Linked DNA regions of Homo sapiens: region 1 is linked to region 2. Evidence: fine-mapped expression QTL. A gene starts in region 2. The other region holds a variant in brackets. All regions are shown on one strand. Distances are between the middles of the regions. Region 1 overlaps TMEM151B (transmembrane protein 151B). Region 2 holds the start of AARS2 (alanyl-tRNA synthetase 2, mitochondrial).

Region 1 (10,896 bases), 35 kb before region 2:
CACTTGTTAAGTGGGGAAGTGATGTCAGTGGGTCCCTCCCCCTTTTCTAGAGGACCTGGAAGGGGTCTGGGCTGGGGACCTTCCTTCGCTGATGCCTGTCTGTCTGTCCTCCCCTGTCTTCCCTGTCCACATCTTCTGTTTCATTGCCATTTTTGTGTTTGTCTTCGGATGCTCTCTGGGTACCATCCTATCCATCTGTGTTTGCTGCCTGGGCCTCTATCTCTGGCTCTGATCCTTCTCTGCCTCTTGGGGTGTCTCTCTCTGCACTCTCCTGTACTGGCATTCCGGTCCCCTTTCCTGTCCTCTGGCTTGCTCTGTGTCACTTCTGTTTCTACCTCTGGCCCCTGGCTCCCATCTTGGTCTCACCTTTTCTCTCCATATCCCTGTTTCTCTCTGCCTGTTATCTCTGGTGCTGGCCTCTGCCCCTCCATCCCCGTATCCATCTCTGTGCTGGGTCCTGCCTGCTCTCACTTCCCACTCATCTTGGCCCCTCTCCCTGCCCACCTGAGCAGCAGCGTCCCATCCAGCCCTCTTTCACCAAGTCCCTCTGCCGTGAGTCCCACTGGAAGTGCCTCCTGCTCTCGCTGCTCATGTACGGCTGCCTGGGGGCAGTGGCCTGGTGCCACGTCACCACAGTGACGCGCCTCACCTTCAGCAGCGCCTACCAGGGCAACAGCCTCATGTACCATGACAGCCCCTGCTCCAACGGCTATGTCTACATCCCCCTGGCCTTCCTGCTCATGTTGTACGCCGTCTACCTGGTGGAGTGTTGGCACTGCCAAGCCCGCCATGAGCTGCAGCACCGTGTTGATGTGAGCAGTGTGCGGGAACGTGTGGGCCGCATGCAGCAAGCCACGCCCTGCATCTGGTGGAAGGCCATCAGCTACCACTATGTCCGCCGCACCCGCCAGGTCACCAGATACCGCAATGGAGACGCCTATACCACCACCCAGGTGAGGAGCTGGTGGGGAGTGCAGGACATTCAACATGGGAGGTGGCACTTACGTGCTGCCTCACTCCCTCCCCACCTCCCTGGGGGGAAGGTGGGAGGAGCAAAAGGCAGCAGTGAGCTCCCATGAGCATTGCAACAGCAGGGCAATAGCAACAACCATAATCATAACAGCAAAAACCGACCAGGAGCCAGGCTCTGCTCTAAGTATTTTACACACATCAAATCATTTATTTAACCCTCATAACAACCCTATGATGTAGGCAGGTATTCCCATTTTGCAGATGAGGAAACTGAGGCCTGGAGAGTTTAAGTAATGTGTCTAAGGTCAAATAGGCAGTATGTGGTGGAGATGAGACTTGAACTCAATCAATCTGGCTCCAGGATCTCTATACTGTTTAGTGCTTAATGGATCTACTTAGTGATTAATGGCAGAGTGTGGTGGCTCAGGCCTGTAACCTCAGCACTTTGGTGAGGCAGAAGGATCTCTTGAGCCAGGAGTTTGAGACCAGCCCACCCGGCAGCAACATAGTAAGACCCCATCTCTATAAATAATAAAAAGAAGTAGCTGGTGTGGTGGTATGCACCTGTAGTCCCGGCTACTCAGGAAACTGAGGTGGGAGAATCGCTTGAGCCTGGGCAGTTGAGGCTGTAGTGAGCTGTGATTGCCACAGTGCAAGACCCCATCTCAAAAAAAAAAATAAAAATAAAAATAGTGCTTAATGGCTGGAGATGGCTTCACATGCCCAGTATCATAGCATGCTCTTACCTGTTCAGTGAGGTGACTGCTACTGAGTTCTTTCACAGGTATGGACACCTAAACTCAGTGACTTGTCCAAAGTCTGCTGCTCTTAAGTGGTAGTGCTAGGCTCAATCCCAGCTTCCTGGATGTCAAGTTCAAGGGTCTAAGAGGAGGTGGGCGTAGGAAGTCTCACTGAGGGTGGGCAGGTCAATCAGCACTTTGTGGACTCGCCAGGATGAGACATATTGGGGTCCTGGAGGAGACGTTCCCAGATGCAGGCCATCTGTCTCAGTATAAGGATCAATAGACAGAAGCCTGGGGCGGGTGAGAAGCAGGAAGGAGGCTGATGATAGCTACAGCGTGAACAGGCAGACTAGAGATAGAGGGGTTCTTTAGGGAGTGCTTCTGGGGAACCCATTGGGAAACACAATTGTAAAAGGGAAGAAAGAAGAAGAGGAGGCTGTTTGTGGTGATGTGGGGGCACTTTGGAAAACAGAGGCAGTGGCAAATGGATCAGGCAGGCCAGAGGGGCAGTTCATGGCCAGGGCCTGACCCCTAGAGGAAGCAGGGCTTAGTTAAAATTTAAATGCGCGGCCGGGGGCGGTGGCTCATGCCTGTAGTCCCAGCACTTTGGGAGGCCGAGGCGGGTGGATCACGAGGTCAAGAGATCGAGACCATTCTGGCCAACATAGTGAAACCCCGTCTCTACTAAAAACACAAAAAATTAGCCTGGCGTGGTAGTGGGCGCCTGTAGTCCCAGCTACTCGGGAGGCTGAGGCGGGAGCATGGCATGAACCCGGGAGGCGGAGCTTGCAGTGAGCCGAGATGGCGCCACTGCACTCCAGCCTGGGCGACAGAGCCAGACTCCATCTCAAAAAAAAAAAAAAAAAAAGAAAAAGAAAAAGAAAAAAAATTTAAATGCGCACAGGTAGGGCTGGTTCTAGTCCGGTCATCACGTCTGATTACACAGAGGGCGTCAGTTGCCCTGTAAGTCAGACGGAAAGATCCTAACCAGCTCCAGCCGGCACCTAAACCAAGACAGACTTAGGGTCCGACCAGGCAACCAGAGCACAGATGGGGCGGGAAAGGGTGAGTGGGCAGAAGCGGGCACCAATGACGGGCTCCCCGCGACCCCGCCGCCTGCCCCCCGCGCCGCAGGTCTACCACGAACGCGTCAACACGCACGTGGCGGAGGCTGAGTTCGACTACGCGCGCTGCGGCGTTCGCGACGTGTCCAAGACGCTGGTGGGGCTGGAGGGCGCGCCGGCCACGCGGCTGCGCTTCACCAAGTGCTTCAGTTTCGCCAGCGTGGAGGCCGAGAACGCGTACCTGTGCCAGCGCGCGCGCTTCTTCGCAGAGAACGAGGGCCTAGACGACTACATGGAGGCACGCGAGGGCATGCACCTCAAGAACGTGGACTTCCGTGAGTTCATGGTGGCCTTCCCGGACCCGGCCCGGCCGCCCTGGTACGCCTGCTCGTCGGCCTTCTGGGCCGCGGCGCTGCTCACGCTGTCGTGGCCGCTGCGAGTGCTGGCCGAGTACCGCACGGCCTACGCGCACTACCACGTGGAGAAGCTATTTGGCCTGGAGGGCCCGGGCTCGGCCAGCAGCGCAGGCGGTGGCCTCAGCCCCAGCGATGAGCTGCTGCCCCCGCTCACCCACCGCCTGCCGCGGGTCAACACAGTAGACAGCACGGAGCTCGAGTGGCACATCCGCTCCAACCAGCAGCTGGTGCCCAGCTACTCTGAGGCGGTGCTCATGGACCTGGCGGGGCTCGGGACGCGCTGCGGCGGGGCAGGCGGCGGCTACGCGCCCTCGTGCCGCTACGGTGGGGTAGGCGGCCCGGGCGCGGCGGGCGTGGCTCCCTACCGGCGCAGCTGCGAGCACTGCCAGCGCGCCGTCAGCAGCTCGTCTATCTTCTCGCGCAGCGCCCTAAGCATCTGCGCCAGCCCGCGGGCCGGCCCGGGGCCCGGTGGGGGCGCGGGCTGCGGGGGCAGCCGCTTCTCGCTGGGCCGTCTCTACGGCTCCCGGCGCAGCTGCCTGTGGCGCAGCCGCAGCGGGAGCGTCAACGAGGCCAGCTGCCCCACGGAGCAGACGCGGCTGTCCAGCCAGGCCAGCATGGGGGACGACGAGGACGACGACGAGGAGGAGGCCGGGCCGCCGCCGCCCTACCACGACGCCCTCTACTTTCCGGTCCTCATCGTCCACCGGCAGGAGGGGTGTCTGGGCCACAGCCACCGGCCGCTGCACCGCCACGGCTCCTGCGTAGAGACCTCACTGTGACCTCCGGCCCCGGAGTGGCCCGCGCCGTCCTCCCGCCTGCCCCTCGCCGGACTGTGCTCCCTCTGCGACGCAGGGCGAGTCACCACGGTGACTGAGGCCGCGCGGGGGGCAGGGAAAGGGAGGTGAGGGCCGCAAGACAGGCCCGGATGGGGCCGAGACCCCCGCTGTCCCTGTACATAAAGAGACCGATGGGTGGGAGGGGGTCGGCTGCTCCCCGAGATCCCCCTGGCAGAGTCATTCTTCCAGCCCCAACCCTGAGTTCCTAAAGGGACACCTCCCTCCTGTCCAGCCCTTCAACAGATCTTCTGTTAGATGACAACCGTGCCGTGGGCCCCGCGTTGGGCCTTGTCTGAAGGGAGAGGCCCTGGCATGCGGATGGGAGATTTAGAGGCTGTGGAGAAGGGAACTTGGGGCTTTCCTTCCTTCGTGGCCTCACTCCCCTGGGGCCTCTCTCTATGGAGGGGGCAATGGTTTGGTGACCAGCAGGCTGGATTCCAACTAGCTAATGCATTCAGCAGGTCTGAGGCTGGGGCCAGGTGTCAGCCCTAGGCCTCCATCCAACACCGTGGAAATGTTGCTGCCCTCTTCTTGGCGCTGACCCCAAGATTGGGGTTTCCTTTCTGCCGCTCCCTCCACTGTTGTTTATCTAACTGGGCCCCCACTCCAGGTCCAGAGGGACTGTGCTCACTGCACAGACATCACTCACCTTCCGCTCCCCAGTCCTGCAGAGCTGTTGCCAGGGTGCAGTGGGGAGGGGAGTGAAATGTGGAGGACTGTGTACCTCAGTCCTCTCTCTAAACTCCTCAGCCTCCCAACAGGGGCCTCCTCACCTGGGTTCTGAGTGTATACCCCTTTTAGAGAGTGAGATGCCACCCGGGCAGCACTCGTTAAAGCTGGCCAGCACGAGTGACTAAGGGGAGAGAGCATGACATAGACCTGGGTGGCAACGGGGACCTCTGGAAGCAGGTGGGAGTAA[G/C]AGAGGAGAGGGCAGTGGAGGGTAGAGGAAAAGGACCTCCAGAGGTGGGGTGTCTGTGGGGGCGGCCTTTGCCTCCCTAAACCTGTGCGGAGGAGTGGAGTGTGCTTGTCGCTCAAACACATCTCTGGGGGACTGAGGACGTTGTCACAAGCCCCAACTGGAGAAATAATTCCAATGGCAGGGTCAGAGGCAAGCATTCTCTAAATCTTGCCCAACCCTTCCATCCTTCCCTATCCTATGAGCTGAAGCCCTGCTGTGTGTCGCAGGGTCTTCAAAGGGGCATCCTGCCACCACCCCAGGGCGCTGGCCCCACGTCCTGTTCCCCTAAAGCTCTGACACCGCCTTCTCTCCGTGTGCTCCCCCCACCACCTCCACCCTGATGTGCTTCAGTGTGCATGTCTGTGAACAGCCCTCCTGCCCTGCCAACTCCCCTGGCTAAAGTCTCCCCAGCAGATTTAGCACCCAGGGATTGAGCTCACATTTCAGGCTAGAGAGGATAACCCTTGGGCCACCCACATCTCTCACCCCTGATGCTTCTTACTTCGCCTGAGCCATCAGAACTCCTCCTTACCCTCCTTCAGCCCCTCTCATCTTCCTTCAGCCCAGCCAGGCCTGCACCACCAACTGTGTGGCCTCCACCTATGCAACATCGCCTCTGGCTCCCCTTCCCTTCTTCCTAGCGGGGAGTGCGAGGGGCCCAAATTGTGGGGATACCATGGCCCATGGCTTCTAAAGGGTTTAGCTTTACTTTCAGGTAGAGATGGCTGAGTGAGGAGGGAGAAGAGGCTAGAGAGAGGGAGGCTTGGGCAGGGGAAACAGCTGCCCACCAGGTTTTCCTGGACAGCAGTGCCCACCTGCCTACTAGCACTGAACCTGCCTGGACCCTGAGTCTGTGCTCCTTGGGGGCCTGGCGTTTGGAGCACCCTTCTTTCCTCTGAATGGACATCTGTGAGGTACAGGTGGTGAGCTGCAGCCTCAGGCTCCATTTCTTAGCCAGCTGGCACCTGGATGTCATGCTTTGTGTGGGGACAGCCTGGCCACCTCAGGGCTCCAAGGAAGGAGGAACGTGGCTCCTCCTCCCTCAGGCCTGTTCCTGAGACAGAGCCTGGTCTCACAAGAGGGGAAGGGGGACCTCTATTATTATTTTTGCCTGTATTGACCATTTCTGCCTAGGTCGTCTCAGACAGCCTCATCTCCCACACATGCACAGACTTAGAGAGAAACCAATTCTTTGGTCTATTTTCTTGGTAGCTTTACTGATTGCCAGGGAAAATGAAAACCAGAAAATTAATTAATCTCTAAAATTAAACTTTACACTGAATGTTCTTGTTTCTCTAATTAGAACTTCTGCTAGCAGCTGTGGCTATACACACACACACACACACACACACCCTCACACCTACACGTTTGCACTCCGGAACTGTCAGAGGGTGTCAGGCACAGACAGACTCTAGGTTGCCTAGACAGGCACACACATGCAGTCACTCCCAAGCCCCCTTTGGTGCTCTGCTCAGCGCCTGCTTAGCGGAAGGAGTCCCTGGAGAGCAGGCACTCCTGGACTGGGGTTGTAGCCCATGACCTGCCCTTTGGGGACACAGTTCTGGAGGCTCTGGGCCAATGAATCAGCCCAAGGAGGATGGGCAATGGCGCTCAGCCTGAATCAGTCAGCTAGGTCTCTTGTGGCCCTGGGGGCTGATGTGATTCCTGTAGGTGTGGCCCCAGGGTGGACAGCTACAGAGTGATGGGGGACTCATGTAGGGCACCTGGAAGGCTCCATGTGTCCTGGGGACAAGGGCTTGTGGGGTGGGCTGGGCCTGGCTGGGGAGAAGACAGGTCTCTGTCAATTGGGTGCATCACACTGTGGCCTTTTTGTCGTGGATTTAAGCGCAAAGATTGTACAAATCAAACTGGTGGATAATAAAGTCGTGGATGACTCACTGACTTCCTGTCCCAGTGTGGCACTTCTTTCCCTCCCTCCCAGGGAAGCTCTCTGGGGTGGGTGGCAGGGATTGTGTCATCCTTCCCTGGAAGTTGTCATCTACAGTTGCCTCCCCAGAGGAGTCCACTGGGTCTGAGCCCCTGGTGTCAGCTCATTGTCCCCTTCCCAGGTTGGGAGTTGGGGAACTAGGGGATGGCGTGGCCTGTAGAACTGGATCACTTAAAGCAGAGTCAAGCAACAGGGAAATGCATCTACAGGGATGAGGGTGGCAGAGAGAGCCAGGCATAGCCCTGCTGTAGCCAGAGGGTGTGTGTGTGTGTGTGTGTGTGTGTGTGTGTGTGTGTGTGTGTGTGTTTGAAGATCAAGGATCTGTTTGGTAGAGAAGAAAATGGTGGGGAGTCAGGGAGGCAGGCAGCCCCAACGGGAGAATCTGGCAGGCACAGTCCCTCAGACACCTCTCTGACTTCCCTGTTCCTGAAAGAAGTTGGTCATTTGTGGGTGTCCAGTAATATCCTTTCCCTGGGCACAAAGGCTGGGTCCCTACTGCATACCCTTTCTTCCCCCATGCCAGGCTCCCTTCCCTGCCTCATGTCTCCATCCATACAACCCTTGATCACTCCAAGGTTATTCACAGTCCCCCTCCCCGCTCCCTCTGAACCAGTGTGATACTCTGCAGCAGGCATGGCAGGGGTATGAAATGAGGGATGGGGCTGGGGCCATGATCCAAGTCAGGTCATTTTATCCCACAGAGTTCTCAGGGCCATTGGCAGTTATGGTTGACATGAAGTGGCTGGGATTCAGGGCCCGCTGGCGGGCTGCTTCTCGGTTTGCGTAGAGGGCCTGGCCAATGAGGTACTCGCTTTCCTGGGCCACATCTGACAGGCGCAAGTCAAATTCCAGGAGGGTCTTGTTGTCTGACATGCCTTCCAGGAGCTGCTTCCCACCGTCCTGGGAGAAGGGTGCAAAGGAAGGGGTCATTTACATCACTACCCAGGATCTGACACACATACTACACATTTTCAGGTAGATGTGACTAAAACAAAAGTTTCACAAAACAATACTTAACCTATTTGTGACGCATGATGACATATTCTGTTCTTTTCCATTTGAAAAATGGTAGCCAATACCCACTAAATTGACATCTCAACCCTACTAGTTTGAAAAACATGAATCTCTGGCAATGAAGATAATTCCATTCCTTTGGTTCAGCCATGGGCATGTGGGACAAATCTAATGAGATGTGAGGGGGAAGCTGAGAGAGGGTGGCTTCTGGGAAGCTTCTCCTCATTCCAAAAAGAGAAGAAAAGGGAGCAGGTGTTCTCCCGGTTTCTGCCTCTGGGCATGTCCCTGTATGAGATGTCAGAACTGTGGCAGCCATCTTGGGACTGACAGAAGCACTAGCGAGGCATTGGCCATGAGACTGGGGTGGGCAGAGCAGAGGGTAGCACTGAACCCAGGGGTTTACCGACCCTACAACCCTCTAATTCTGGTTGTGGGAGACACTGAATATTCCTCCTGCTTAAGCCATTTCTGATTAAGCTTTTTATTACTTGCAGTCAACAGCACCCCCTCTAGAAACTGTGTGTGTGTGTGTGTGCGCGCATGCACGTGTGTGTGCGTGTATGTGCCTGTGTAGGTGAGCAAGGCTGTTCTCATGGGGAGGTTTAGTAGAGGGTTCAGTGACCTAATGGAGGGCCCTGCTCAATGGTCATCACAGCTCCAACCCCTGCTGGGCTGGGTGGGCTAGCCCCAATGTGAAAGAATTTCACGTTGGGAGGCAGAATGCTACCATTCTGTGGTTGTGACCCAGTAGTGTGTTGCAAAGTCAATTTAATGGGTCACAGAAGCATTTTAAAAAATACAATAGAATGGAATGTAAAGGAAAATATCAGCATATATCACGTCATAAATTTCAATATTATGTTTATGTCAGTGTTCATGTAAATTGCATTTTTTTTTTGAGACGGAGTCTCGCACTGTCACCCAGGCTGGAGTGCAGGGGCACGATCTCAGCTCACTGCAATCTCCGCCTCCTGGGTTCAAGCAATTCTCCTGCCTCAGGCTCCCAAGTAGCTGGGGTTACAGGTGCATGCCACCACATTGGGCTGATTTTTGTATTTTTAGTAGATATGGGGTTTCACCATGTTGGCCAGACTGGTCTCGAACTCCTGGCCTCAGGTGATCTACCCACCTCAGCCTCCCAAAGTGCTGGGATTACAGGCGTGAGCCACTGTGCCTGGTCGTAAATTGCATTTCTTACTCTCAGACTTGGTTAAGAAAGTTTTAGAGACACAGTCTATTAGAAAGGACTCAGGCTTTCAATCAATCTTGGGTTTGAATCGTAGCCTTGCCACTTGCTACTGACTTGATGCCCTTGGGCAACTCACTATCCTCTCTGAAACTTAGTTTTCCATCTAGAAAGTAGGGTTAAATATACTTAGTTATATACTTAAATATATTTAGGGTTAAATATGCTTAGGGTTAATATACAGTTACTTAGGTAACTGTAAGGATTAAAGGAAAAATAATCATTGGGATACACAGTATGTGTGCATACTTGATGCAGTATGTAGTATGTAAACTCTGTGATCTTCACAATTATCCCACAAGTACCCCTGGCAGTTGGATTCCACACCCACCCTCACAAGCCCAGAATAGGTGGCTCACCAGCCCGATGTGGTTGCAGGACAGGTTGATGCTGGTGAGTGTGGTGTTGATGGCGAGCACCTGTGACAGGAGTGTGGCGGTGGGCTCAGACAGCTCATTGCCACCGAGGTGCAGCGTGGTGAGGCACTTGTTGGTCTGCAAGGCATGGGCAAGAGCCTGGCCACCCTCATCCTCGATGCAGTTGAGACGTAGGTTGAGGGAAATGAGGTTGGTGTTGTGTGCCAGAGCGTGAGCCAGGGACTGGGCACCGGGTGCACGCACCTGGTTGTTAGCCAGGTTGAGCACACGCAGGCGGCTGTGGCTCAGCAGCTTGGCAGCACCTCGTGCACCACGGTCTCCAATGAGGTTTTGTGACAAGTCCAGCTCCTCGAGGACTGGGTGGTCCAGAAGGCTTCGAATTATGATGCGTGCCTTGTCATCATCCACCTTGCTTCGGGTCAGCTTGAAGATCTGTGGGCAGGCAGAGGGTCTACAGCAACTGCCAGCCAGGGATAATCAGCCTGCCCACCTAGATCTTTGGCAAACTTGGCTCACCTAGTGTTGGCCACCTGGCTGGGTCTTGGAGGGGGCCAGGCCTACCAGCATGGCAGAGTAGTGTAGAATTGGTGGCAGGTAGCAGGGAGGAAAGATCACTGTTTATTGAGCAATTACTACATGCTGGGTATGCTGCTTGGGTCTTCCTTTTTTATCTTTTTTTTTTTTTTTTTTTTTGAGACGGAGTCTCGCTCTGTCACCCAGGCTGGAGTGCAGTGGCGTGATCTTGGCTCACTGCAAGGTCCACCTTCCGGATTCACACCATTCTCCTGCCTCAGCCTCCTGAGTAGCTGAGACTACAAGTGCCCGCCACCACGCCCTGCTAATTTTTTGTATTTTTAGTAGAGACAGGGTTTTACCGTGTTAGCCAGGATGGTCTTGATCTCCTGACCTCGTGATCCACCCGCCTCAGCCTCCCAAAGTGCTGGGAATACAGGCGTGAGCCACCGCGCCCGGCCGCTTGGGTCTTTCACAACCATTATCTCTAACCTTCAGCATCTCGATGAAGAAGAGAAAGTTCTCTCCATTTTACAGACAGAAAATGGAGGCTTACATTATTTCCCCAGAGTAATGCAGTGATTGAAGCAGTTGAGACAGGTTTGGAATCCAAGCCTGCCTGAGGCCTCAGCCCCTCACTGCATCCTCCTCTCCCAGCCAAGATCCACCAGGGCAAGGAGAGGACCTCTTTGAAGGAGGTTGCCAGGGCAAGAACCAGGGAGACAGTGGGGAGGTGGAGAAGCAGGAAAAGGATGAGATAAAGGAATGAAGGAAAGGGGATGGGGCTGGCAGTATGAATATTGTCCATG
Region 2 (10,896 bases):
ACTTACCACCAAACCTCTCTCTTCCCCAAGCTTCTTCGTCTAACAGTCATGCCATTCACTGTGTTGCTCAAGTCAATAGCCTGGGAGCCATCTTTGAATTCTTTTTCCCCTACCCGTCATGATCCATCAGTGGTTCCTTTTGCTCCTACCTCCATGACATCTCTCAAATCAATCTACTTGTCTCTACTTCCACTGCTATTATCCGAAGCATGCCCTGTGGTCCTTGCCTGGACCGATAATAGCCTCCCAACTGATTCCTAAGTTTCTGCTCTCATCTCCCTCCAGCTCATCCTCCACACAGCAACAGGAGTAGCCTTTTAAAAGTGTACATCAGGCTGGGCGCGGTGGCTCACACCTGTAATCTCAACACTTTGGGAGGCTGAGGCGGGTGGATCACCTGAGGTCAGGAGTTTGAGACCAGCCTGGCCAATCCTGGTGAAACCCCATCTGTACTAAAAATACAAAAATTAGTCAGGTGTGTTGGCGGGTGCCTGTAATCCCAGCTACTCTGGAGGCTGAGGCACGAGAATTGCTTGAGCCCCGGAGGCAGAGGTTGCAGTGAGCCGAGATCATGCCACTGCACTCCAGCCTGGACAACAGAGCAAGCAAGACTCTGTCTCAAAAAAAAAAAAGAAGGGTTCTCAGTGGGGAGTGTGGCATGATCTGATGTACACTTTTATTTATTTATTTTTTTTGAGATGAACTCTCACTCTGTTGCCCAGGTTAGAGTGCAGTAGCACGATCTCAGCTTACTGCAACCTCCACCTCCTGGGTTCAAGAGATTCTCCTGCCTCAGCCTCCCAAGTGGCTGGGACTACAGGTGTGTGCCACCATGCCTGGCTGATTTTTCTATTTTTTTAGTAGAGACAGGATTTTGCCATGTTGGCCAGGCTGGTCTCCAACTCCTGACCTCAAGCGATCCGCCCCCCTCTGCCTCCCCAAGTGCTGGGATTACAGGAGTGAGCCACCGTGCCCAGCCCTGAGAACTCTTCTCACCACTCTGAGAATCAAGGCCCCACTTTGGACTTTGAGGCCCACAAGACTGGATTCTGCCTTCTTCTCTGTGAGACTGTTCACAAAAATGGCCCTTTCCTAGGCATATGCCACTTTAAAATGGGACTTTACAGCTGTTTCCCATCAAGGGACAGAATCCATTTCTCCATCCCCTGAATCTCTGCTGGCTTTGTGACTTGCTTTGGCCCATAGAATACAGTGGAAACAACACTGTTCTGAGCCTATGTGTCTGCTCTCTGTCTTGGAACCTTGCTGAGCTGTGATGTGGACAAGCCCAGACTAGCCAGCTAGGTGATGACAGACACATGGTCCAGTCACCCCTACTGCCCCCAAACTGACAGCCAGCCAAGCCCCAGAGGAGCTGCGGCCTCTCAGCTCACCACAGATGGATGAATGAGCTCACACAAGACCAAAGAATGAGCCAGCTAAGCCCAGCCTAAACGCTAGCTCACAGACTCAGGGGGCAGATACATGGTTGTTGGTTAAGCCACAGAGCATTAGGGTGGTTATACAGCAAAAGCCAACTGACACATGTTCCTACTATATCCCATGGGATTCTCCTTTAGCTGGCTGGCCACCTTTTAGTTTTTGGCACATGTCAAGCCCTTTCTTGCGGGGCAAGGAGGGAGGGTATAAGCTACACACATGTGGAAATGCTCCAAAGCAGGGAGCTTGATTCACCTAGCTCCAAACCTCTCTCTTCCCCAAGCTTCTTCATCTCAGTAAACAGTCATGCCATTCACTGTGTTGCTCAAGCCAATAGCCTGGGAGCCATCTTTGATTTCTCTTTCCCCTCCCCATCTAATCCATCAGTACCAAGGCCCTTGGTACCTGCTGTCCCCTCTGCCTGGAAAGAACTTCCTGTAGCTGACTCCTCCTTTGGGGCTCAGCTCAAAGGTCATCTTCTTGGTGAGCCTTCCCCAAGCACCTTATCTAAGATTCCTCTGTACCCCTCCTTCTTCCTAGTTACTTTCACCCATGTTTACTGCCTGTTCACAATCTGTAAGCTATTACCTTGTTCTTTAACACATTTATTGATTGTCTATCTCTCATGCTAGCATATAATCTCCATGATCTCTTTCCTGCTTACTGCTGTGTCTTCTGTACCAAACACAAAGGATTTAACATAAAGTAAGCACTCAACACGTATTTTCTAAATAAATGAAAGAGGCAAGGAGTTAGGAGGAACATCAGGTAATAAGTAATGAATCCTAGTGTCTTGCTTGACGTCTTGGAATTCTTGGTTGGTTATTGTCCTCAGATGCTGAGAACACTCTGAGTTCTCAACAAAGATGGAATGCAATGGGGCTGAGGGCTGTGAAGAGCAGGTTAGAGGGCTTCTGGAAGGGAAGAGGCACTCACCTGCTGTATGGCGTTGAGCAGCGGGGAAAAGAGGTCAGTGTCATAGGTGGAGTGTTTGCCTTGCAGCACAGCCACCAGCCTTTCCAGGCCCATTCCTGTGTCCACATGCCGCTGGGGCAGGGGCTGCAGGCTTCCATCTGCCTCTCTGGCCAGGGAAGGTGTGCAAGGTGAGGCCCCACCCAGGATTACAGGTGTGAGACAGATGCCCAAGTGGAGTAGAGAAATGGGGGGGGGCCCAAGGGAGCTGACAGTGGGAGGAACCAGACAATCAGTATCTTCCCCTGCCACCCTGCAATAGCAGATGATGATGGCCTTGGGGTCCTGTCCTTCCTCATATAGGGCTATTTCCATTCTCACCCCTGCTTGGGCCCTTGCCTGGGCACCAGACATCCCATCTTGGGACAGAATTCTTTGCCCCTAGAAAGATATGTCAAGGCTAGAAGAAAATCTGAGATCATCAAGTTCAACTCGTTGATCATCAAGTTCAACAGAGAATAGCAGTGACTTGTTTAAGCTGTCACAGGCAAAGACTACAATTAAATCAGTTATTATCTATAAGGTGTTGAGAATTGTGCCTGACACACGGTAAGCACCGTTTACATGTTTGTTTTTATATGAAACAGATCAAAGTCTTCTAATTGCCACCTTTCCCACTTCTAGTCAGGGATTCTCATCCTGCTTCAGCACCCTATTACCTGTTGTGTTGCATGAAGACCAGGTTCCAAAGCTCTACCAGCTGGGGGGCTCCCACCCCACCAGCAAGGTCGTAGTGGATCTCAGTACAGGGCCCACAAGGGCCAGTATCCCCCATCTCCCAGAAGTTCTCTTGTGGTCCAAAGGAAAGCACACGGCTAGCAGGCACCCTGGGGAGAAAAGCAGGTGAGTGGTGGGAGACAGACAGACCCAGAAGCTGGGACTCTCTCTGCCATGAGAGCCCCTCCCTCAAGTCACAGCTCAGCAAGAGGAGGAACAGGGCTGACCCCACAATATCCTGGAATGAAATGCTAAGACTCTGAGGATTGGTGCTGGTAGTCTCCACTTTCCAGTCCTCCTGACCTCCAGGAATGAACATAAGAAGGGGGCTGACTTACCCTAAGCTCAGCCAGATGTCCCTGGTCTCCAGGTCTGGGTCCAGCCCTGCCTTGGGGTCACCATCAAAGTAGGAGATCCAGAGCCTTTCCTCAGGGATCCCATAGACCTGAGTCAGCAGTTCCCAGGCCATGTTACAAGCCTCCTCCTGCAGCAGAAACCAGCATGGGGTGGGGGGGGAAGACGGGTGAGAGGGAGACCCCACTGAAGTAATCAAGCCACATGAGTTTAGCTCCCGACTTAAGACAAAAGCATTTCTGCTGCCATCTTGTTCCCAGAATAAGCCATGAACCATTACTGCCTCTGAGTGTTTTCCTGCCCAGAAAGCTTCCCCCTTCTTCTAAGTCCTATCTTCTTTCAAGTCCCAGACCAAGTCCCACTTTCACATGAAATTCTCTGCCTACTCTAGCCTAGAGTGATCTTTAACTCCAGTAAGCACCTTAGCATTGCTGTTTGACCATTTATTCAAACAACAATTTTTGAGTGATCATTAGGCAGAAAGTACAGTCTCTGCCCTTCAGGGACTTACAATCCAATCAGGGAGGTGAGGTAATTCCTGTTACACCGGCTCAACTAGCACTTTGCCTCCACATCTGGTATGAGGCCCTGCCTAAGCAGACAGTACAATGGAAACAGGACAAATTGACTCCCTTCTTGGCTGATCACTGATCCCCAGAGACTCACCTTAAAATATTCACCCCCAAAGGCCCAATTGCCAAGCATTTCAAAGAAGGTATGATGGGAAAGGTCTCGACCCACATCTTCCAGGTCGTTATGGTGTCCTCCAGCTCTCACACATTTCTGGCTGTTGGCCACACGTCGGAAGCCTGCCATCTCGCTTCGTGGATCCACGGTGCCCAGAAAGATTGGCTTGAACTGGAAGCACATAGAGTGGGGAGGGGGAGAGGGATATCCAATTTCTCAGTAGAAGGGAAATGTGGGGAGTGAGGATAGGGATGGCTGTTCAGACCGAAGGCTGACTGTGCCCCTGAGAGTGCAGTGTAATCTTGGTCTATGAGGACAAACTGGGAGCCTCGGGACAGCCATCTCTGGTGTGTGGGGAGCAGAGAAGAGGTAAACAAATCATGAACCGGAGACCCTCTGCCTAGTAAAATAGGCAAGGTAAAAGAAGGAGGAATGTGTTGGGAGCTGGAAATGGGACGCTGAAAGGTGGCATCCTCCGTCTCAGCTTCTTCAACCACACCCAATAACTTCAGGGAACAAAACTGAGACTCATTTAGTAGGGAGCCCAGACGGCCTCTAAGGTTAACTTATGCCGCCCCTATTTTACAGATGAGGACAATGAAGTCTAGAAAAGATGAGTGGTTGATAAAAACCAAAACCTTAGAGAATAGTACTCAGCAAACAATAGGTGATCAATAAACATTTAATGAAAGCGTTATCTTTATTTAAATAACGAATAAATGAAATCAGACTTCTCCCTCGGGATTCCACTCCAGCCATTTCTGGACCTAATACTCAATCCCAATCCAGAAGTTCCCAGCTCAAGCCCTCCCCAAGCCCTCCCTATACTCTGAGCGCCGTACCCCCATCACTTTACCCAACCAAGCACCGCCCTCTTTCCCCAAAAGCTACGAACTCCGCCTCTCGCTTCTTTTGCCCAATCCTGCAGCGTCTTTCTCACCAGAAAACTCACGAACTCCGCTCCCTATCAGTATGGTTCGGCCCTCACCTGGTTCATGCCCGCATTGACAAAAAGCAAACTGGGGTCGCCGCGGGGCCGCACGGAAGCGGAGGGCACCAGCCGGTGGCCATGGCGGTCCCGAAAGAAGTTCAGAAAGGCGGCCCTCACGGCCGAGGCCTTGGCTGCAGGGGGCTCCGATGAGAGCGGCCGATGGCTGAGGCCCCGCCATGCGGGCGACCTTCGAATGGCCCGCCGCAGCCTCCGGGCTGCAGCTGCCACTGACGCTGCCATCGTAGCTCCGGGCAGTGACTTTACGTGGTCAAAGAGTGACGAGGGAAGGAAGCCAGGCGTTTCCTACAGCGGCCCCTGGCGGTAGGAGGACTCAGGGGGCGGCCTCTGCCGCCGGGGTGGAAGCGATCGATTGGGTCGCTGGCAGAGTCTAGCACAGCGCCCGGCACATAGTAGGCTCTTAATTCATTCGGCATTAAGCAAATATTCATTGAGAGCCTACTATGTGCTAGGCATTGTTTTGGGCTTTTAGGGTACAAAATTGACAAAATGCCCTGCCCACTGAAATCCGTATTCTAGCAGTAATTGCTGTTGTGCTTATTAGTTTTGCAAAGTTACAGATGGGGTTGCAATAAACAGGTGTGGATTCAACTTCGTGTGTGTGTGTGTGTGTGTGTGTGTGTGTTTTGTGTGTGTTTTTCCAGGCTGAGGGAAGAAGGCAGAGAGTGACAGGGGAGTATCAGCATTCATTCAAGAGGTATTCAACAAATATTTATTGAAGACCTAGTATGTGCTAGGCACTGTTCTAGGCATTTGCCAGTTTCCTTGGACCTTGGCATCAGACACGGCCATTTTTGCCCGTGAAGCAGGAGTCTATAGGAGAACACAGAAGCCAAACAGCATCTGCTATATTATTAATTGCCTAACATTTGGTCTTCTCATTTGCCTGGGGATCAGAGAGAATCCAGGTCGTCAAGGCAGGAGGAAGCTGTTGGCTAATAGCTGCAGAGATTTCACTCTCTAAGCCTTCTAATGCCCTAAGGTTTTGTGTGTTTTCGTTTAGGATAAGAGATATACCTGTTCTACCTCTCCCTTCTGTCTTTCCATAGTAACAGCTGTGACCCTGAAGCCAACAGGCCCTTGTGGATGCAATCAGGGTGCTCATGGGGCTTCTCATGATGCCCTTGGCTTGGGAAATTAAACAGATTGGGAAGACAGAAGAGAATCTGCCAAAGCTAAAACTCAATAGAGGTTCCAGAGCTGAGGTCAGTGTAATAACCGAGAAGGCCTTAGCCATCAGGGTGGTCTCTTTTAGCCACGATTCTGTGTGTGTTAAGTTATTTGGGGTCTTTGTATACATAGTTTCTCTGCGGAATCTACATTGGACTTGAATTTCTATAGTGATAGTAAATTCTTAACTTTGTGTTCTGACAGCACCTATAACTCCTATTCCATGATCCCCTTTTTCTCCCTTTGCCCACATAGATTAAAGGTGTTGTTTTGAAAGTGTGTTTGGCCTGTTTTGGTTTTTCCAGTGTTTCTGGAACAGAAAGCTAAAGCCAGCTGGGGATTTCTGTGTGATTAATGACTTTTTTATTTTTTTGAGATGGGGTTTCACTCTTGTTGTGCTGGCGTGCAATAGCACAATCTCGGCTCTCTGCAACCTCTGTCTCCCGGGTTCAAGCAATTATCCTGCCTTAGCCTCCTGAGTAGCTGGGATTACAGGCATGCATCACCACGCCCGGCTAATTTTGTATTTTTAGTAGAGATGGGGTTTCTCCATGTTGGTCAGGCTGGTCTTGAACTCCCGACCTCAGCTGACCTGCCTACCTCAGCCTTCCGAAGTGCTGGGATTACAGGCATGCACCACTGCGCCCAGCTGAGATTGATGATCTTTAGACAAGACTGTGAAATTATTTCCCAAACTGAGATGGGAGTGTTTTGCCATACAAACCTGGCAGGGCCTCTACTCAGTACTGACATCAACTTTTTTTTTTTCAGATTTTGCCCAGAAAGTCATTGTGTTACATTAGAAACTCCAAACATGGATCTAGTGTGGAGCCATATAATTTTTTTAAAACAGCTTTATTGAAATATAATTTACATGCTATACAATTCGCCCATTTAAATAAAGTATACAGTTCAATGCCTTTTAGTATATTTACATAGAGTTGCCCATCCATCACCACAATCACTTTTAGAACATTTTCATTACTTCCAAATAAAACCCCAAATCCTTTAGCCATTAACCCCCAATCGTCTCATCCTTCCTAGCCCTTGGCAACCACTAATCTACCTTCTGTCTCTACAGACTTGTATATTCTGGACATTTCATGTAAATGGAATCATGTAATATGTGGTTCTTTGTAACTGGCTTCTTTCACATAAAATAATATTTTCAAGGTTCATCCATGTTGTAGCATGTACCATGGATTTTTAGAAAAATGTTTTTAGTTGTTTTCTGTTTGAAGTAGGTTTTTCTCTCATCTAATTTTGTCTTTGCCACTAAAAATGATAATTTTCTTTTCTTTAAATGTGGTGCTCTTTGGTGAATCATTAGGTTCTTTTTAATATTTCCCAGTGAAGCAAAGCGGTTCATCTAGGATTGGGACGTGTCTGTTCTGGTTTGCAGCTGTCATCTGATGAGGAAGTTAAATTGAAGGACTGCAGTTTCCCAAGATAGATGGAGGTGGAGAAAACTCATCAGACAGGGAAGTTACCAATCCTGGGAACTTCTCTGAAGGGTACTGATCCACTGTCTTAGTATTTATGGGAATTTCATTTTGAGGTTTAACATGCAAATGGGGTCTGCTTTTTGCGAGTTACTCAGCTGGGTTTTGTGAGCAACATTTGGGGTGCTCCTTTCATTGTTTAAGACAGTGGTGCTTTATCTTCCCTGGAGGTGGGATTTACCCTTACGTTGCCATTCGACCTACTTATCTTGGTAGGTTCAAGGCATCCAGCCATTCTTTGTGCTCTCCCTTTCACCTTGTTTAAAAGATGTAACACTCTTATTCTAGGAGTAGAAAGTGTCCTTTCTGATTTCCCGATTGGCTTTGAGAGCAGGACCCCAAGATCAGTGAGACATTCTGTCCTGGATTGATGGTCAGAGAAGACAAAGGGAATTTTCACTCTTACTAAGCATGGGGAACTCAACTTTGGGAATTTCCTCTTATAAATCATAAAAACAGTCTTTTAGCGTCTAGGTTAAAAAGTCAGCCTACGACAGGTGTTTCTGATTTGATGTGTTTATTTATGGCATTGGCTTATCTGGATTGTGAAAGCAACCAACACTTGCCAAACATTAATATGCATATGGATCTCCTGCGATCTTGTTACATATGCAGACTATGATCCAGTAGGTCTGGAGTAGGTGAAATTCTGCATTTCTAGCAGGCTCCCGGTGATGCTGCTGCTGCTGCTAGTCTACTAGACCATACCTTGAGTGACAAGGGTGTAGTAAAGGACTTGTGAGGGGAGTCTGGACACAGGCTTTAGGAAACGTTCTTTTGCCTGGTCCTGGGGCCTAAGACTCAGGTGCCCTTAGGTTCTCCCTTTCTCCTGGGAGGGGTGCTCACCCAGAGTAGGTGGGTGTAGCTGGGAGCTCATCGTGCGCAAGAGCGCTCGCCCCCTTCCTTCCCCCAGCTTCTTAGGGAAGTGAGGGTGGTGATTGCGTCCGCCTGTGGCTTAGAGCCGTGGAGGTTAATGTGGACCAGGGTGGAAGGGGAGCGGTTACCATGGGAATCTGGCAAAGTCATCAGGGCACGCCGATGGCTGGTGGAGCCCCCGGATCAGGAATTCAAGTATTGGTGGACCCTTGAGGGCCTCAATTCTAGAGGTTTATCCTCATGCATTAAAAAAATACTGTAGTTACATTTTATTTATTTTTATTTTATTTTTATTATTTTTGAAAGAGATAGGGTTTTGCTATGTTGCCCAGGCTAGTTTTGAACTCCTGGTGTCAAGCATTCCTCATGCCTCGGTCTCCAAGATAAACATTTTAACTGGTTATAGAAATACCTACATAAGAAAGAAGTAGACATAGGAGACTCCATTTTGTTCTGTACTAAGAAAATTTCTTCTGCCTTGGGATGCTGTTAATCTAGAACCTTGCCCCCAACCCCGTGCTCTCTGAAACAGGGTTAAATGGATTAAGGGCGGTGCAAGATGTGCTTTGTTAAACAGATGCTTGAAGGCAGCATGCTGGTTAAGAGTCATCACCACACCCTAATCTCAAGTACCCAGGGACACAAACACTGCAGAAGGCCGCAGGGACCTCTGCCTAGGAAAACCGGAGACCTTTGTTCACGTGTTTATCTGCTGACCTTCTCTCCACTATTATCCTATGACCCTGCCACATCCCCCTCTCCGAGAAACACCCAAGAATGATCAATAAATACTAAAAAAAGAAATACCTACATAACAACTTCGATTTTGCCTCTTGGCCTGGAAAGCCTAAAATATTTAATACGTGGCTTTTCAAAAAAAGTTTGCCAAACACTGCAATAGAGATTTTTTAAAAATCACACCATAAAACGTAGATGCAGAAAATCAACCAAAACAAATGTTGACTTGTTTCAATGTTGTTGATTCAAAGGCAGACATCTTTGTATCCACTACCCAGGTCTTGAAATAGAACTTTGCAGCCACCCCAGGGCCCCTCCATGGATTCTGCCCTGCCCCCAACCAGCTTCCTTCTCCCAAAGGTGACCATTACCCTGACTTTCATAGTAATCACTGCATTTTTTTTTTTTTGAAACAGAGTTTCAGTCTCGTTGCCCAGGCTGGAGTGCAATGGTACAATCTCGGCTCACTGCAACCTCCACCTCCCAGGTTCAAGCAATTCTCCTGCATCAGCCTCCTGAGTAGCTGAGATTACAGGCACCCACCACCACGCTTGGCTAATTTTTGTATTTTTAGTAGAGATGGGGTTTCACCATGTTGGCGAGGCTGGTCTTGAACTCCTGACCTCAGGTGATCCACCCACCTCAGCCTCCCAAAGTGCTGGGATTACAGGTGTGAGCCACCGAGTTCAGCCTGCATTGCATTTCTTTACAGTTTATCACCCAAATGTACATCCTTAGATGTTATAGTCTTGCACGTTTTTTAAAAAAGCGTATCGACTTGATATTTTAAGTCTTTTTATCAATAGGTTCCATCTCCATCCTTTTCCTTACAGTGTATCTACTGCTTAGCTACGGAGATTTGATCTGTGGTTTCCCACAGTCTAAGTTTTTGCTGACTCCATATTCGACATTCAACTCACATTCAACATGTTCCTCTGTCTTCTCTATTTCATGCAAATTAGCACCTGGATGTGGAGATTTGATTAGACACAATTTTGAATCTCTTTGGCAAGACCATAGATACCCCTTCACCAGAGGGTACATCAATGTATGGTTGTCTGTATTTCTGTGATCCTAGCAGCCCCGATAACATAATGCCTACATCTGTTAACGCACTGGAAGGTGCAACATGGTGATATGTTAATTCTGTCATCTCTTTTTCGTTTATTAATCGGAGTCTTTTTATGAAGAGATGCTTCCCCTAATCAATTATTTGTTAATCAGTGGTATAGTTAATGTAGAAAAGGCTACATGCTTGATTTTGCCCCCTTCAGTTATCAGTGTTCAAGATAATGGATTTGTTTCTATCACTCTCCAAAAGTGAGCTATTATTGTATTTTCAGCATCATTGTGAAGTCATGGATTTCAGCCTATTTGATGGTTCCAGTCCATTGCAATTACAGTGCTGTGTCCATTAAAGCTCAAAGTGTC

What was found. PIP is the estimated chance that this variant, and not a neighbour inherited with it, causes the effect.
Region 1: its variant is fine-mapped to the expression of AARS2 in tibial nerve (GTEx, PIP 0.94). The same link has a PIP of 0.9 or more in prefrontal cortex.

The regions. Positions count from the first base shown.
Region 1 is chr6:44,272,554-44,283,449 of GRCh38, forward strand. It overlaps TMEM151B (transmembrane protein 151B), which reads left to right. Exons shown (of 3, transcript NM_001137560.2): 2 at 513-953; 3 at 2,850-6,891. The coding sequence ends at 3,974. It overlaps DRC5 (dynein regulatory complex subunit 5), which reads right to left. Exons shown (of 5, transcript NM_182539.4): 4 at 9,557-10,006; 5 at 6,181-7,837. The coding sequence ends at 7,628. Among named protein-coding and RNA genes, the nearest start is that of TMEM151B, 7.6 kb to the left of the region's middle. RefSeq lists an enhancer at 2,856-3,648. The variant G/C (reference allele first, on the strand shown) is at 4,951.
Region 2 is chr6:44,307,923-44,318,818 of GRCh38, forward strand. AARS2 (alanyl-tRNA synthetase 2, mitochondrial) reads right to left here and starts at 5,425. Exons shown (of 22, transcript NM_020745.4): 1 at 5,159-5,425; 2 at 4,150-4,341; 3 at 3,468-3,613; 4 at 3,072-3,239; 5 at 2,377-2,521. The coding sequence starts at 5,401. It overlaps LOC124901322 (a long non-coding RNA gene), which reads left to right. Exons shown (of 3, transcript XR_007059594.1): 3 at 6,229-6,625. RefSeq lists an enhancer at 5,170-5,729.